2 separate regions of the Homo sapiens genome follow, and region 2 is linked to region 1. The links come from fine-mapping of genetic effects on plasma protein levels. A gene starts in region 1. The other region holds a variant in brackets. All regions are shown on one strand. Distances are between the middles of the regions.

Evidence for each region. PIP is the chance, under the fine-mapping model, that this variant and not a neighbour inherited with it causes the effect. The UK Biobank Pharma Proteomics Project read protein levels with antibody pairs (Olink). The fine-mapping took linkage between variants from a reference panel, not from the people measured, so its PIPs are less certain.
Region 2: its variant is fine-mapped to the plasma level of the PTPRR protein (UK Biobank, PIP above 0.99). The variant lies in the coding sequence of PTPRR. If it changes the protein, the assay may bind it differently, which can mimic a change of level.

What each region holds. Positions count from the first base shown.
Region 1 is chr12:70,917,023-70,925,361 of GRCh38, reverse strand. It overlaps PTPRR (protein tyrosine phosphatase receptor type R), which reads left to right and starts at 4,624. Exons shown (of 14, transcript NM_002849.4): 1 at 4,624-5,029. The coding sequence starts at 4,972.
Region 2 is chr12:70,760,316-70,768,654 of GRCh38, reverse strand. PTPRR (protein tyrosine phosphatase receptor type R) reads left to right here. Exons shown (of 14, transcript NM_002849.4): 3 at 3,877-3,990; 4 at 7,029-7,184. All of the region lies in intron 1 of LOC124902960 (a long non-coding RNA gene), which reads right to left. Among named protein-coding and RNA genes, the nearest start is that of PTPRB, 130 kb to the right of the region's middle. The variant C/T (reference allele first, on the strand shown) is at 3,982.

The DNA of each region.
Region 1 (8,339 bases):
CTACAACTGTGTTAAGTTATAAAATGTAATTGTTGTTATCCATCTTGAAGTCTGTGTCTTGGGATAAGAACACTGTTTTCAATTTAAGTATTAAAATAAGTTCGGTCATTAAGCAGGGATGTTGTACAATACAGCTGATAACAGCATAGTGCTAGGGGTCACCATACCTGAGTTCTAATCCCAGCTTCACCACTTACCAACTGGATGGCTATAGGCAAATTACTAGCTTCGCTGAGCTTCAGTTTTCTCCTCTACTACAAAAAAAAAAAAAAAATAATACTTCACACAGCTCTTGTGAGACTTCAATGTGATAATATATATTTTTAGAATTTTAGTGCTTTTCCTCCCCTATTCTTATTGCCCCTTGCAATTTCATTGTTCTCTTCACTGTATGCTTATGAGAAAGGGTAGATCATTCTTCTTGTTATGGTTGGGAAAATACTAAAAAATAATAATGGTGAATTTATATACCTGAACATGGTATTTTCATCTGTGAATTTTGAATTCATTCCTTTTCATCCTGAGCTATATTCCACTCTGAATATAGCTTAATTCACATCAATTATTTACTTTGTAAAAAGAAATTATTTTTCTTCTTTTCTCCTCTTATAAAAGATAGCTCTCAGACAAAAGGAAACAGACTTTGGGATTGATAAAGTGGCTGCATAAAGGATGGGAAAGGGCAAGCACAGAACAAATCTTAGTGAGGTGTTTATAACTGTTACCTATTGCTCCCTTACATGTTCAGAAGTTCCTTGAATCCATTTTGCTGCTTTATATCTCTGCCACTGGCTCACACAATTCCCTGGCCTTTCTCTTCATGTAGAGCAGTTAGAACCTACTTATCCAGCCAGACTCAGTTCGTTTCCTGTTGCCCACCAGTTTCTTGCCTGCTGCCCATCCCCTCCTCTGCTCCCACCCTCCATAGAAGAAATCATTTCCTCCATTCTTCTCCATTCTATCTTAAGCATCTTTCTAACACAGTTCCTCTAAGCATGATTTTACTTGCTGTCTTTGTTCACTAGATGCTAGGGCCCAGAGTCCACTGCCACAAGCAGTGTCTCTTGTTCTCCTGGAGACAGTCTTCTATGAGTGTTCCTCAACACAGAGCTTTACTGTGGGGCCAGGCATCTCATGCCCAGCCCTGATCTAATCATCTAATTCTAGTGAGCAACCTACAACTGAGTGTGTGTGTGTCTGTGTGTGTGTGTGTGTGTGTGTGTTATTAGAGGTAGTATAATATAGTGGTTTGGTATCAAATTATCAGATGTACATCTTAATTCTATCAATTTACTTTTTAACTGATTACTTACTACTTGATTTTGGGCAAGTTACTTCTCCATGCCTCAACTATATTATCTCTAAAATGAGATCATTATAGTATCCTTTTGTAGAAATATTATAATGTTTAAATAGGACATCCAAATGCTTAGAATAGAACCTGGCACACAGGAAGCACAGTCAATGTTAGCCATAATTATACTTAAATAATAGTAATCTAAATAACTTAAGTAGGAGATCCTTATAATCAATGGATCTGATTTCTCAATTTAAAGTGTCTTAAGGAAAGATGGCTGACATGAATAATTTTCATCCATTTATAGAGAAGTAAATATGGATGCTCATAATGATTAAATCTGTTTTGAAGGCAGGCTCTGAAAAGCTTCTTTCTTGCATAAATTTTCTCTAAGACTCACCTCATAAGAAAAAGAAATTATGCATCTTATGTGGAGGAAAATTCCATATGATATTTTTTATTTATCTTGTAAAATGTAAATGATTCTTTTATGACATAGCTCTGTAGGCCACTACTAATTTGTATAGTTCTCTCATAGTAATTTCCATGCTTCTTTGAATTACAGCTAACTTTTTAAAACCCTGATGCAGTGTTTTAACCAAGCTTTTTTTCCAAAACACCAAGTCACCTTCACTAGCATTAGATCACAGTTAAGGAAAAACAGCACCTATCGACTCAGAATATTTCTGTATGAGTTAAGTGGTTGACTTTTTCACTAATTGGCTAATTCATTCATTGCTGTTTGACTTCACGAACAGCAATGAGTGAATTAGCCAATTAGTGAAAAAGTGAATTGAAGCCGTTACAAGTATGATATTAGATTGACTCACATAGGAATATGACCTTTTTCGTTACTTTATCATTTCTAAGTAAATTAATAATGAATGTCTAGTCACCAAAATTACAGCCCACTCAGGGTTATTTTTACCATGCTGAACTAACTATTCTAATGATATATCCAGCCAAATTGGAAATTGGAAATTTTTGCTGCTAACGGAATTTTCATGCATAGTTTAACAATTCAGCTACCTGCAGCCCTGAACAAAATACATTGCCAGCAGGATGCTTTTTGGCAAAGTCATAGTCAATTATAATAATGGGAATTTTAAATGCCCCACCAATAAATGTTGGAATTATCTGTGGAAAAGGAAGGGGTTCAGAACATTACTGCAGCATTGTTTCATTACCATAAGTAAGTATATTTTATTCTTGGAGATCTATGTAAGTTTGATAATTAGTTATTTTAGGAAACAAGAAAATAAGAAAAATAGACCTATTGTAAGTGGGATACAATTATTTTTCCCTAACCTCCAGCCCTGCAGCATTTCTAGTAACAGATGTTAGATGAGAAGAGTTATTCTTCTAAGCTTTACAGAATGCTAAATAAATTATCTCAAAGGTTGACTCAGTAAGAATTTCAAAGAGTTAATTGTCAGTATTGAACTTTGTCAACTATCATTTTCATTTATTCATTTTTGAGTATCTATTTTGCATGAGGCATTGCTCTAGGGAGTTGGGACATATCAATAAAGTCATCAAAGTTCTTCAACATTGGAGCTCAAATTCTGTTTTGCGGGGGGGAGTAGGGAAATAGATACTAAACAATAGATTTTATAAGTAATTATTTTGGTTTGTTAGAAAGTGATACGGGAAAAGCAAACTGGAGGACAGTGAATCAGGAATAGGAGAAGAGGTTGCAGCTTAGAGTGGTTTGGGATGAAATGATAGTGCCACAGAAATGGAGTGTGCCACACGCATGGGGGAGTAGGGGGTGGAGCACGTTGCTAGAGAGGGGCTAGACATGGAGATATGTCTCTATTTTCAGCAGAGAAGGCCTGTCAAGATATTAAAAGTACATCTCATTGTCCCCTTCTCCCACTTGTTGGAGTGCTTCCTGGCCTTGTCTCTCAGAGCTGAAGATGACATAAATCATAAAAGAAATAAATGGTACCGCCTGGGCTCTCTGATCTTATAAGGTCCCACCTAATTTAAGCTCTGGTGGATAGCCTATTTCCCATTAGTTGTCTCAATTCACAGAGGATGGAGAAAGAAAGCACTGAATGAGATGTGCAGCTCAACTCAATGGGCACTTGTTAGCCCCAATTATTTGGCTAGGACAACTTTATTCAAGTTAATGGAATACAAAACTCAGCAGTTCTTATGGAGACTTCAATGTGCTGTAGAACAAACCACAGATAAATGAACTGTCTGAAAGAATAATATGAGGCACGGCTAAACAAGTGTTGTGGAAGAGAAAGATCACTGTAATCTAGAGTTAGTTAGAGTTAGGGCTTTCTGGAAAAGTGAGACCAACATTACACCTTCGAAAACTAGTGTGGTGGTGGTGCAAGTGGAGGAAAATGGGAAAGAGGCAACAGTGTCCATAAAGACACAGAGGCAGAAAGGGCAGAGGCCCTGGGATAGTTAAAAGAGAAGTCTAGCTGAGGGACTTCTTGACTTGACTAGCAGCAATTAGCCATGACTAATAAGGCTTTCCACACTCCAAAGACTTAGATGGAGGGATAAAAAACCATCTAATGGCAGACTGTGGTAGCCTCCCTAGAGACACAGAGCTGGGCCGGATGAGTCCAGGCACTGACGTGATCCATTATCTTTCACCTTAAAGAGTAAAAGGGAAACTAAAGTTAATTACCTCCACGAAACAAAAAGGTGCCTTCTTGTGCTTCAATTACATGGATATATTCTACTAGTCTAAAAGTATCTTCTCACTTCTTTCTGTCACTGTGAGGACTTGAGTCAGAAGAAAGTTTAAATACAGTCATTGAGCTGGAAAGAGTGGAAAGAGAAGCAAAGAGGGGGAAGCTGTAGGAAGGACGAAGTCACCCCCAAGATACATGGTTACTGCTTACACCAAGCAAGCTGCCTTGGGAACGCTTCCCCCGAGCAGCCAGAATGCTCAGCAGTGGAAGACACCTCTATTCCTGTAGGCGAGTCCTGGGAAGCTGGTCAATCTGCAAATGCCAATTCCCAGCAGTGAGCTCGGTCCACGTGTAAATCAAGATTTGGGGAAAGAGTAGGGTGGGTGGCATGGTTGACAATGTCATCAGCTCCCTCCTCTGACTCCTGTGGTCGTGCCCCCATCTACTCTCACTCAGCTACACCCCACCTTCGGATTTGTGATGGACGCTGGGTCCCTAGTAACCACAGCAAGTGTCTCCCCCGCACTTCCCCCTTCCCCACCCCCACCCCCACCCCCAACCACCACCCCAGCGATGGAGCCTACTCTGCTCCAAGCCGCCGCTAAGACCCGGAGAAGCGGAATTTCACTTTGAAATTCCCTTGCCTCGTGAGGGCCGGCGCTGGGCATGCTCAGTAGCCGCGGCGCTGCTGCTGGGCTGCTGGGCTGGCGCGGAGTCCACCCTGCCGTCTCCGCCTTGGCTTCTGGGCGTCCAGAAGGCCAGGCATTTGCCGCCTCTGAGCGCTTCTGTTCCCCTTACCCGCAACCTCCTACTGCTCTTCCTCTCTCCCTCTCTTAGGGAGGTTGAAGCTGGTGCTGGTTTCTGTCGGCGCCACAGACTGACTGCTCTGCAAACCCCAGCCGAGGACCTGAATCCCGGAGACTAGAAGACCCTTGGCGGTGGCTCTTTCTAATAGCACTTTACCTGAAGTGGGGTCGTGGTGGAGTTTCTCCTCCACCTCTCAATGCAAACACTATGCGGAGAGCAGTCTGCTTCCCTGCGCTGTGCCTGCTCCTTAATCTTCACGCTGCAGGTAAGGGGTTGCCAGGCTTAGAGCCGGAGCTGTGCATGAGATGGGAAACTGCACATGCTTAAGGACTCTAGGAAAAGCTTGCCTTGCGAAGAAAGCCTTTCTAAAAAGGTAAAACAGGACAGTACCTGACAGGGAAGGGGTGAGGGAGTCGTGCACCTGTTGGAAAACTGAGGCCGAAAACTTAACCTAAAATTAGCTCTTGATTTTTCTTTACTTTATACGAAAATAGTGAACATTTTCAATATGAATACAGGTTTGCTCCCCCCTTCGCCTCCCCTCCGTCTAGATTCCCTGCTCTTGTTTCTAGGCTATGCACTTAACTGTCAATTTTTCAGGAGAGGGATAAGACATCCTGCTAGATGTAACCTTTTCTACTGCAGCGGCTACTACATTCATAAGGTCTCTTGGTCTAGCGAGCGCTCATAGGAAGGCATTGGCTGTAACCTGATGGACCACATCTCCGCCCAAAAGATCGAAATACATGGTTCACATTAGTGATGCTGCACCAGGCTCCTTTGGCCCCTGCTCTTGTCACTCGAATTTTCTAAGCCAATAAGAGGAAGAAAAGGTTTCAAATAGAATCCTCTTGTCTCTTTCAGCACCGTGGCTAGCGTCCGCTGGCATATTAAAAAAAAAAAAAAAAAAAAAAAAAAAAAAAACAATTACAGTTCCAAAGCTGACAACCCTGGGTTAGGCACTGTCCCTCGGACAGATTTGATAAGGTGTAACCAAGAGTAACAGTGAGACTGCTCCCAAATATAAATAGATTTGAGGCACCAGAATCAATATCAAGTCTCGTGAGGAAGCAAACCTTGGGAAGTACCTGAGAGATATTATATGTGGTGTCCCTGCTTTTTGCATACATAGCACCTCTATTTAATGCAGACAGACTTGCTAGGCTGAATTCCTTATCATTGTCACACACACATGAACCAAAATAAAATATGGCAGGGAGATTTTAGAAACCCTACTGTGACAGCAGTTGTCCATGCAGTAGTCCTGTAACAACCAGAGACGAGGCATTTTCCCTGAGTGTGCTTCTCATCCAATCACACATATCCATTCATTCCTTCAAGCAACATTTGCTGAGTGTATACTATGTTCTAGGGGTAATGAGTAAAAATAATTGTTCTGAAATTACAATCCTTGCAGTATCTTTTTTAAAAGAGTGGGTGAATTTTATTCTCTGTGTACAATAGTAGGAGTGAAATATGGTACTTTCTTATTCCAGCTAACGCTATTATTTAAATGTATCATGAATCTTTTGAGCAAATAATGCATAGGATTATTAAAGCTATTATTAAATACACATGTTAATTGTTATAATTATGATGTTATATTGTGGAGTTTTCAATAGTTCTTTGGCACATTTTGAGAAGTAGAAAATAGCTATGACTTGATTATTAAATTATTTGCAAACAGCTGTAGTGAATTATTTCGTTACCACATACAATTCTTCAATGCTGAAATGTGGGATGAAAACATACACATTGGGTTGAGTTTTATTTATAGTATTGCTTAATAATAGACTGACACAAACATTCATTACAGAAAAATCTCAATTCTTACTAAGGTAGCAATGATTTAGCTGGTCTGCCAACAATATCAGTGTAGTCATTTTTTCAAAACTAACATATAAAAAAGTTTAAAGATCACATTTGATACATCTTGAGTAATTATATCTTAAAAGTTATAAATAAACTGAAGCATGTGAAAAACATGTCTTGATTTACTGTAGATGAATATTCGGGATGAGAAAAATGAGGACTTTTGCTCATCAGATGAGAAACCTAGAAGCCTGTAGCCCTAGATTTTACCTGGAGTTCTGCCAAAGGGTATATTACCAAAGCCAATCCAATCCATCTCTACTTCAACTTTTTAATTTGCAAAACAAAGATAAAAAGTAAGATTAATCAACCAATTTTAATTTAATAAGAAAATGCATTTAAGGACATTTTTATATTTCAATTGCAAGATACTATTCATTGTATTCATATTTAATATAGTAAAATACATTGGTGTTTTATCACAGCAGATTGTAAGTTTAATATTATAGTTCTCTTGCCAATTTCATTTTAAATGCATTTTAATTTTAAACAGCAATTTGTGGGTCACAAGCTGTCATCAGATTAAAATTTATCACAGTTATCTAATAACATTGTTAGGGCTTTTCATCAGAACTAAAACAAACACAGCTCCTTGGTCTAAGCTTCTATACATTTGGAGATTAAGAAAATAAGTGGATGGGATGACAAAGATCAAGAAATCAAGATATTAATCTCTACTTGTTGAAGGTGTGAGTTTGTTACTTTTATGGAAGACTTTTCTCTCAGAACAGAGGCTGACTTCATAAAGAAGGGAAATGAATTCTATACATTCAGGCCTCTTTAACTGTAAAGCTAATTGATCCATTTTGGTTACGCCCAGGGTATCAGCAACTGCTTTATGCTGGTGGAACTGATGACACCTTATAATGCTTTAGAGATGGGAGGAATGTGCTAACGGGATGTAAGTGTTCTTTTTAGCTATATTAGGAACTGTTGCCTTCAATATAACCATGCCTGTAATGATAAGTAGCAAACTGCTTGCAACTTGAGTGCCATCTCCCATTATTTTGCTTATGGTTGCCTAAGACACCATCGGGGGGAAAAAGAAGATTATGACTCGCATTCTGGCTAGGGAGAAGTACTGTGGTCTATAATAGCTGTGGGAGAAAAATGAGGAGTGGGTACCATGCTGTGTAAGTGGCATCTCTGGGTAAATTAACACTAAAGGATTACTAAGCATGGTTCTTGTTAGAGAAGCTGGACACTACTCTACCCATGGCAGCCGATTTTTATAGATCACCTAACAAGGAAGTTGTGGTTATTGTCCATCCAACTGCTTATTTTACAGGTGAGAAAATGAAGATCTAGAGTATTAAAGTGGTAGTTAATAGCATAGTCGGGATAAAAGCCCAGGTTTCCAGACCCGTGGTTGCATACTATATAAAATTATACACTGGTTCTACAATAGGTGAGGCCACCATTGATTAAGTTAGTGGTGCAAAATACTTTTTACCTAACTGTCCTTATTCTTTACTCTTTCGTGAACCAGTTTAATATATAAACTCCAGTTGAAAATACCACTTCAGGAATATTCAAGGAGGCAATTAAAAGCCACCACAATAATACGAATGGTAAAAAAATATTATGTGGAAGATCCACAGAGCTTATTTTCTTCAGCATTTCTCCTCTTCCTTTGTCCAAAGAAGCATATTCCATTTGAGGAGATATTATTTATAGTGTTGTATTTTAGTTGCAAAAGAGTA
Region 2 (8,339 bases), 160 kb after region 1:
ATGAGTTAGGGAGGATTCCCTCTTTTTCTATTGATTGGAATAGTTTCAGAAGGAATGGTACCAGTTCCTCCTTGTACCTCTGTTAGAATTCAGCTATGAATCCATCTGGTCCTGGACTCTTTTTGGTTGGTAAGTTATTGATTATTGCCACAATTTCAGATCCTATTTTTGGTCTATTCAGAGATTCAACTTCTTCCTGGTTTAGTCTTGGGAAAGTGCATGTGTCAAGGAATTTATCCATTTCTTCTAGATTTTCTAGTTTATTTGCGTAGAGGTGTTTGTAGTATTCTCTGATGGTAGTTTGTATTTCTGTGGGATCGATGGTGATATCCCCTTTATCATTTTTTATTGCGTCTATTTGATTCTTCTCTTGCTTTATTAGTCTTGCTAGCAGTCTATCAATTTTGTTGATCCTTTCAAAAAACCAGCTCCTGGATTCATTAATTTTTTGAAGGGTTTTTTGTGTCTCTATTTCCTTCAGTTCTGCTCTGATTTTAGTTATTTCTTGCCTTCTGCTAGCTTTTGAATGTGTTTGCTGTTGCTTTTCTAGTTCTTTTAATTGTGATGTTAGGGTGTCAGTTTTGGATCTTTCCTGCTTTCTCTTGTGGGCATTTAGTGCTATAAATTTCCCTCTACACACTGCTTTGAATGTGTCCCAGAGATTCTGGTATGTTGTGTCTTTGTTCTCATTGGTTTCAAAGAACATCTTTATTTCTGCCTTCATTTCGTTATGTACCCAGTAGTCATTCAGGAGCAGGTTGTTCATTTTCCATGTAGTTGAGTGGTTTTGAGTGAGTTTCTTAATCCTGAGTTCTACTTTGATTGCACTGTGGTCTGAGAGACAATTGTTACAATTTCTGTTCTTTTACATTTGCTGAGGAGAGCTTTACTTCCAAGTATGTGGTCAATTTTGGAACAGGTGTGGTGTGGTGCTGAAAAAAATGTATATTCTGTTGATTTGGGATGGAGAATTCTGTAGATGTCTATTAGGTCTGCTTGGTGCAGAGCTGAATTCAATTCCTGGGTATCCTTGTTAACTTTCTATCTCGTTGATCTGTCTAATGTTGACAGTGGGGTGTTAACGTCTCCCATTATTATTGTGTAGGAGTCTAAGTCTCTTTGTAGGTCACTCAGGACTGGCTTTATGAATCTGGGTGCTCCTGTATTGGGTGCATATATATTTAGGATAGTTAGCTCTTCTTGTTGAATTGATCCCTTTACCATTATGTAATGGCCGCCTTTGTCTCTTTTGATCTTTGTTGGTTTAAAGTCTGTTTTATCAGAGACTAGGATTGCAACCCCTGTAATTTTTTGTTTTCCATTTTCTTGGTAGATCTTCCTCCATCCCTTTATTTTGAGCCTATGTGTGTCTCTGCACATGAGATGGGTTTCCTGAATACAGCACACTGATGGGTCTTGACTCTTTATCCAATTTGCCAGTCTGTGTCTTTTAACTGGAGCATTTAGTCCATTTACATTTAAAGTTAATATTGTTATGTGTGAATTTGATCCTGTCATTATGATGTTAGCTGATTATTTTGCTCATTAGTTGATGTAGTTTCTTCCTAGTCTCGATGGTCTTTACATTTTGGCGTGATTTTGCAGTGGCTGGTACCGGTTGTTCCTTTCCATGTTTAGCGCTTCCTTCAGAAGTTCTTTTAGGGCAGGCCTGGTGGTGACAAAATCTCTCAGCATTTGCTTGTCTGTAAAGTATTTTATTTCTCCTTCACTTATGAAGCTTAGCTTGGCTGGATATAAAATTCCGGGTTGAAAATTCTTTTCTTTAAGAATGTTGAATATTGGCCCCCACTCTCTTCTGGCTTGTAGAGTTTCTGTTGAGAGATCCGCTGTTAGTCTGATGGGCTTCCCGTTGTGGGTAACCCGACCTTTCTCTCTGGCTGCCCTTAACATTTTTTCCTTCTTTTCAACTTTGGTGAATCTGACAATTATGTGTCTTGGAGTTGCTCTTCTCGAGGAGTATCTTTGTGGCATTCTCTGTATTTCCTGAATCTGAATGCTGGCCTGCCTTGCTAGATTGGGGAAGTTCTCCTGGATAATATCCTGCAGAGTGTTTTCCAACTTGGTTCCATTCTCCCCGTCACGTTCAAGTACACCAATCAGACGTAGATTTGGTCTTTTCACATAGTCCCATATTTCTTGGAGGCTTTGTTCACTTCTTTTTATTCTTTTTTCTCTAAACTTCCCTTCTCGCTTAATTTCATTCATTTCATCTTCCATCACTGATACCCTTTCTTCCAGTTGATTGCATCAGCTCCTGAGGCTTCTGCATTCTTCACGTAGTTCTCAAGCCTTGGCTTTCAGCTCCATCAGCTCCTTTAAGCACTTCTCTGTATTGGTTATTCTAGTTATACATTTGTCTAAATTTTTTTCAAAGTTTTCAACTTCTTTGCCTTTGGTTTGAATTTCCTCCTGTAGCTCGGAGTAGTTTCATTGTCTGAAGCCTTCTTCTCTCAACTCGTCAAAGTCATTCTCTGTCCAGCTTTGTTCCGTTGCTGGTGAGGAGCTGTGTTCCTTTGGAGGAGGAGAGGCGCTCTGCTTTTTAGAGTTTCCAGTTTTTCTGCTCTGTTTTTTCCCCATCTTTGTGGTTTTATCTACTTTTGGTCTTTGATGATGGTGATGTGCACATGGGTTTTTGGTGTGGATGTCCTTTCTGTTTGTTAGTTTTCCTTCTAACAGACAGGACCCTCAGCTGCAGGTCTGTTGGAGTTTTCTAGAGGTCTACTCCAGACCCTGTTTTCTTGGGTAATAGCAGCGGTGGCTGCAGAACACCAGATGTTTGTGAACTGCGAATGCTGCTGTCTGATCGTTCCTCTTGAAGTTTTGTCTCAGAGGAGTACCCGGCTGTGTGAGGTGTCAGTCTGCCCCTTCTGGGGGGGTGCCTCCCAGTTAGCCTGCTCAGGGGTCAGGGGTCAGGGACCCACTTGAGGAGGCAGTCTACCCGTTCTCAGATCTCCAGCTGCATGCTGGGAGAACCACTGCTCTCTTCAAAGCTCTCAGACAGGGACATTTAAGTCTGCAGAGGTTACTGCTGTCTTTTTGTTTGTCTGTGCCCTGCCCCCAGAGGTGGAGCCTACAGAGGCAGGCAGGCCTCCTTGAGCTGTGGTGGGCTCCACCCAGTTGGAGCTTCCCGGCTGCTTTGTTTACCTAAGTGAGCCTGGGCAATGGCGGGCACCCCTCCCCCAGCCTCACTGCTGCCTTGCAGTTTGATCTCAGACTGCTGTGCTAGCAATCAGCAAGACTCCATGGGCATAGGACCCTCCAAGCCAGGTGAGGGATATAATCTCCTGGTGTGCCATTTTTTAAGCCCGTCGGAAAAGCGCAGTATTGGGGTGGGAGTGACCCGATTTTCCAGGTGCCGTCTGTCACCCCTTTCTTTGAATAGGAAAGGGAACTCCCTGAGCCCTTGCACTTCCCGAGTGAGGCAATGCCTCACCCTGCTTCGGCTCGTGCACGGTGCACTGCACCCACTGTCCTGCGCCCACTGTCTGGCACTCCCTAGTGAGATGAACCTGGTACCTCAGATGGAAATGCAGAAATCACCCATCTTCTGCATCACTCACACTGGGAGCTGTAGACTGGAGCTGTTCCTATTTGGCCATCTTGGCTCCACCCCTATAATACATCTTTTTAACTAATACCATTTAAAATTTCACATGCAATGTTCCTATAATTTTATTTCTATCAAAAATGCAATAAAGCATTATTAGTGTAAACTTAGCAGAGTCACAGAAACTGTGGTCAGTCATGAGTCAAGAACTGAATGTCGTGAACTTATTAATACTTATTTGGATGTATTCTATACATCTATACAAATTAATACTATAATTTGGATTTATTTTTGTCCTTATTTTCTAGACACTGCAAATGGATGTAAACAAGCTGAACATAACCTTGCTTCGGATCTTCCGCCAAGGAGTGGCTGCAGCTTTAGGACTCTTACCCCAGCAAGTGCACATCAAT[C/T]GCCTCATTGTAAGATACCCACATTTCGCATTTCCAAAATTCAAGCCGTGTGTGTGGTTTTTTTAATCACTAAAGGGCTCATGCTATAGTTGTATGGCTAATGAGCCAAATCCGGCACGTCATGTTTTTGCAAATAAAATTTTATGAAACAAGCTATATCTGCTCATCTACCCATTGCCCATGATGCCTTTTGTATTACAGTGGCAGAGTTCAGTAGTTGCAAAAGATTGGCTCATGAAGCCTAAACTGTTTATCATCTGGCCCTTTATAGAGGAAGTTTGTTAACTCTGTCATAGTTCAAGTCTAGGTCCTGTGGTAAATATGAAAGAGCCCAAAACACTTGCCTTACCAACCTGACACTACTCCGAAAATATTCTCCATTAGAGTGAAAGCTTCTATATCAGGTAAGGCAGTTTCCAGACATTATTGATATACTTTCAAGTATATCAGGTGAGGCAGTTTCCAGACATTATTGATATACTTTCAAGTATATCAGTAGAACAATGGACATTGAGTGCACAAGGCAGGGCATTTTAAATAAAGAATAAAGAACTGACCCTGAGGACTGCAGCCCAGGTGGAATGCAGGAATTGGTAGTCCAGGAAAACCAAGAGAAAACTTGAATGGGCATCTGAGTGGGTAAAGTAAAAAAAAAAAAAAAAAAAGTAAACCCAAAGGATCTGTTGTATAGGGCCCAGTCTAGGCCTATATGTCAATCACCCACATCCATTATTTCCTCTCTTTCCTCGGTGTTTGGGAACCTGGATTTCATGCAACTACATGTTCCCATCTGCACTGGAAAGTGGGCGTGAGCAAAGGCCAAAAAAAAAGTAAATTCAGATCAGATGACTGTCTTTCTGTAAAAAGCTAGTCACCTCAGTTTTATGTGAAAAGGAACTTTGGGATCACTGTACAGGTTTTAAATTGCTCTTAATGTCCACTGCAATGGGAGTCTAAGCAAGGACTCCATGTTCCCCCAGCCTTAAATTGCTGTGCTTCTGCTGCATGGAGCTCAGCTTTCTATTGCACCCATCTGCATTCACTATGGAGGGAATTTGCTTTTTGTTTTGGTTTGGGGTTTATGTTTCTTTTTATTTTTTCTGTGTGTAGAGAGTGAGTTGTTTCATTTCTTCATAAAAATTTGTATTCTGTGAATCAACAATGTTCTAGAAGTAAACAAGCTGTTAAAAAGTTTTAACTCATACCACAGAAGAAGAAATACAACATTCCCCTGAATGAGTGAAGGTTACCCGGTGGCTCACGCCTGTAATCCCAGAACTTTGGGAGGCCAGGAGGGTGGATAACTGGAGGTCAGGAGTTTGAGACCAGCCTGGCCAACATGGTAAAACCCCATCTCTACTACTTAAAATACAAAAAATTGGCCGGGCATGGTGGCAGGCATCTGTAATCCCAGCTACTCAGGAGGCTGAGGCAGGAGAATCACTTGAACCCAGGAGGTGGAAGTTGCAGTGAGCAGAGATCACTCCATGGCACTCCAGCCTGGACAACAAGAGCGAAACTCCATCTCAAAAAAAAAGAAAAAAAGTCTTGGATCTAGATCTAGATTTTTTATATATATACAATATATACATATAAAAATATATATGCATCAACCTGTGCATATATATTTTGCTAAGATATATAGAGAGATGATATAGATATCTTAGATATACTTTTATACATATTAGGTTTAATGAGCATAATAGCTGTTTGCAAGGGTGAAGGAGGGATTTGCCAGACTGAGGAAGGAATATGCTTATCATATCCTCAGAGAATGTTAGTAGCATGGTTCAAAGTAGTTATTATAATAGCTAGAGTTACAATACCTGACATAGCAAAGCATGTTGATTAGCATCATGTGTTTTGGAGACAGACAAAACCATACTTCATTTCCAGTGTGGCCATATTCCATGTATGTGAATGTGGGCAAGCCTCTTACGTTTTATTTGTAAAATAGAGATAACCATAATACCTATCGCTTAGCGGTGTTTTGAGCAATAAATGAGATAAAAGATTTAAGGTAAATAGCATGTTAGGCACAACACAAGTGCTCTGTACCTACAGTAGTTGTTATTGGGTCACAAACTATTTAAATTGTTATAAACATGTTTCACATCAGTATTTAGTTATTGTCTGTTGTTCTCTGCAAACATGAAAAAACTTTTACTGGCTTGCTAGTAGTAAACTGATACTTCATTTTATACCAGCTAAAATTCTGATAAAGCACATTAAAAGAAAACTTTCTAGCATGAGAGCTCTCCATGTGTCAGAAAGAAAGCTAAGAATAATTTCCTTCTATTAGTGTGTTGTGTAAGTTGTGAAAGATAATATTATCAATCGCCATGGTTTTGTCTGCTCTCTGTGTGTGTGTGTGTGTGTATGTGTGTGTAGGATATCAGACATTTATGGTAAGAAATTCTCTGACTCCATTTCAGCTAATGAGGTAATACTAATAGGAAAAGTCTCATGACATCACTACATAAGATATGCATTTCCACCAAATGACCAATTTTAAATGTGTGACATATTTGACGTGAAGAACAGTATCAGGAAAAGGACTTCAAAGATCATCTGGCACCATCTTCTTTAGCTAGCCAAGCCTTCACATTAACACAAGTTATAAAAATAATAGAGAGAGTGGTGATGTCTAATATGTAATTTTGTAATTTTACTATTACTTTGGACTTTAATTCATTTGATTTTAAAATGCTTCTTTAAACATAATTACTCAGGGAACATCTGAACAATCTACATCAAAAAATTACAATATGGAATGGTAAATGAATCAGCATGCAAGCATGCACTGAAATATAAAATTACAAATCTTGGGGGGTGGCAACTAATGGCAAGAAAGCTATTTGAAGATTTTAGACTTTGGACTGGTAACATTAAGTCTATCAGAGAATAACTAATAAATATAATCTCCACAAAGCCTTTTAGGATTCTAGAATTCTGACTTCCTTTAATGTTTCTAAAGGACAGGTAAAAATATTATCCAAAGTTGTTTAAAATGTCTATAACAAATACAAATATTCTGCTTTTATTAGGGAAAGAAGAACAGTATTGAACTGTTTGTGTCTCCCATAAACCGAAAAACAGGAATTTCTGATGCTCTGCCCTCTGAGGAAGTTCTTCGTTCACTTAATATCAATGTTTTGCATCAAAGTTTATCCCAGTTTGGAATTACAGAAGTCTCTCCTGAGGTATGTTGTTGCACGAAACAATTCATTTAAAAATGTGAACAGTTAGCATGCTATGGTAATTCAACCCCAAGAGGCTTTGAGATGGAAGTTGTTTATTGTATGTTATTTGATAATAAAAATTTCCCTGAGTGTCAGAATTCTCTGATCTTTACATTGTATATGTTTACTTCTTAAGGAAATGCACTTTCACATTAAGGTTTTCACTTTTTGGCATTTTTCTTCTTCAAACCTTTGTGGCCTTATAACTTATTTTGACTTATCCAGTAAATTTTCTAGAAGAAAGAAGATTTAGATGTATTTTGTCAATTGATCGCTTGAAACTGATATGTCAAATAAACAAAAATACATTTAAACCTTTCTTTCTCTACAGGTGCACCCCTCCCCTCATTGTCGTCATTGTCAAAATGGTCACCAGATATTCGCCTTTTCCCATAACTTTGAAATTAATTTGAAATGTGATTTTTCTTTTTCTGAAGAAACTATAGTTTTTTAAAGAACTTAAGTCTTAAGAACTATAGATGTTTCTTCATAGTATTTTCCAAATTTGTCGCTTTTAAAAAATTTCCTCTACCACCTCCACCATCTCACTCCTGAATGGATTTAATTTCCTTTCCAATTCTATTACTCCATCCCGCTCTAACAAACCTACTGAAAGGATCATCATCCTAAATACGTGTAATTCAATTCATGGAATCATGAAATTAAACTGGAGGGAATATGTGTAACACCTTGTAGATACAGAAAGTATGGCCCATAGAAATTAAGTGACTCCCTCAAGGTGACAGAACAAGAGAGGCGTAAAGCACCACCTAAGATCTAGGTGTCTTTTTTTTCTCTCTTATAGAGGCAGGGTTTTACTATGTTGCCCAGGCTGGTCTTGAATGCCTGGCCTCAAGCAATTCTCCCACCTTGGCCTCCAAAAGTGCTGGGATTACAGATGTGAGTGAGCCATCTTCCCTGTCCAAAATCTAGATGTCCTGATCCCTGGTCTATTCACCTTTACAGTAAATCACACTGCCTCTCATTTTAGTATCACAGGTGTGGTATAAAAAGCTCTGGGTGGGCATGGTGGCTTATGTTTGTAATCCTAACTACTGGGGAGGCTGAGGCAGCAGGATCACTTGCACCCAGATGGAGTTTGTATCCCAAAGCCAC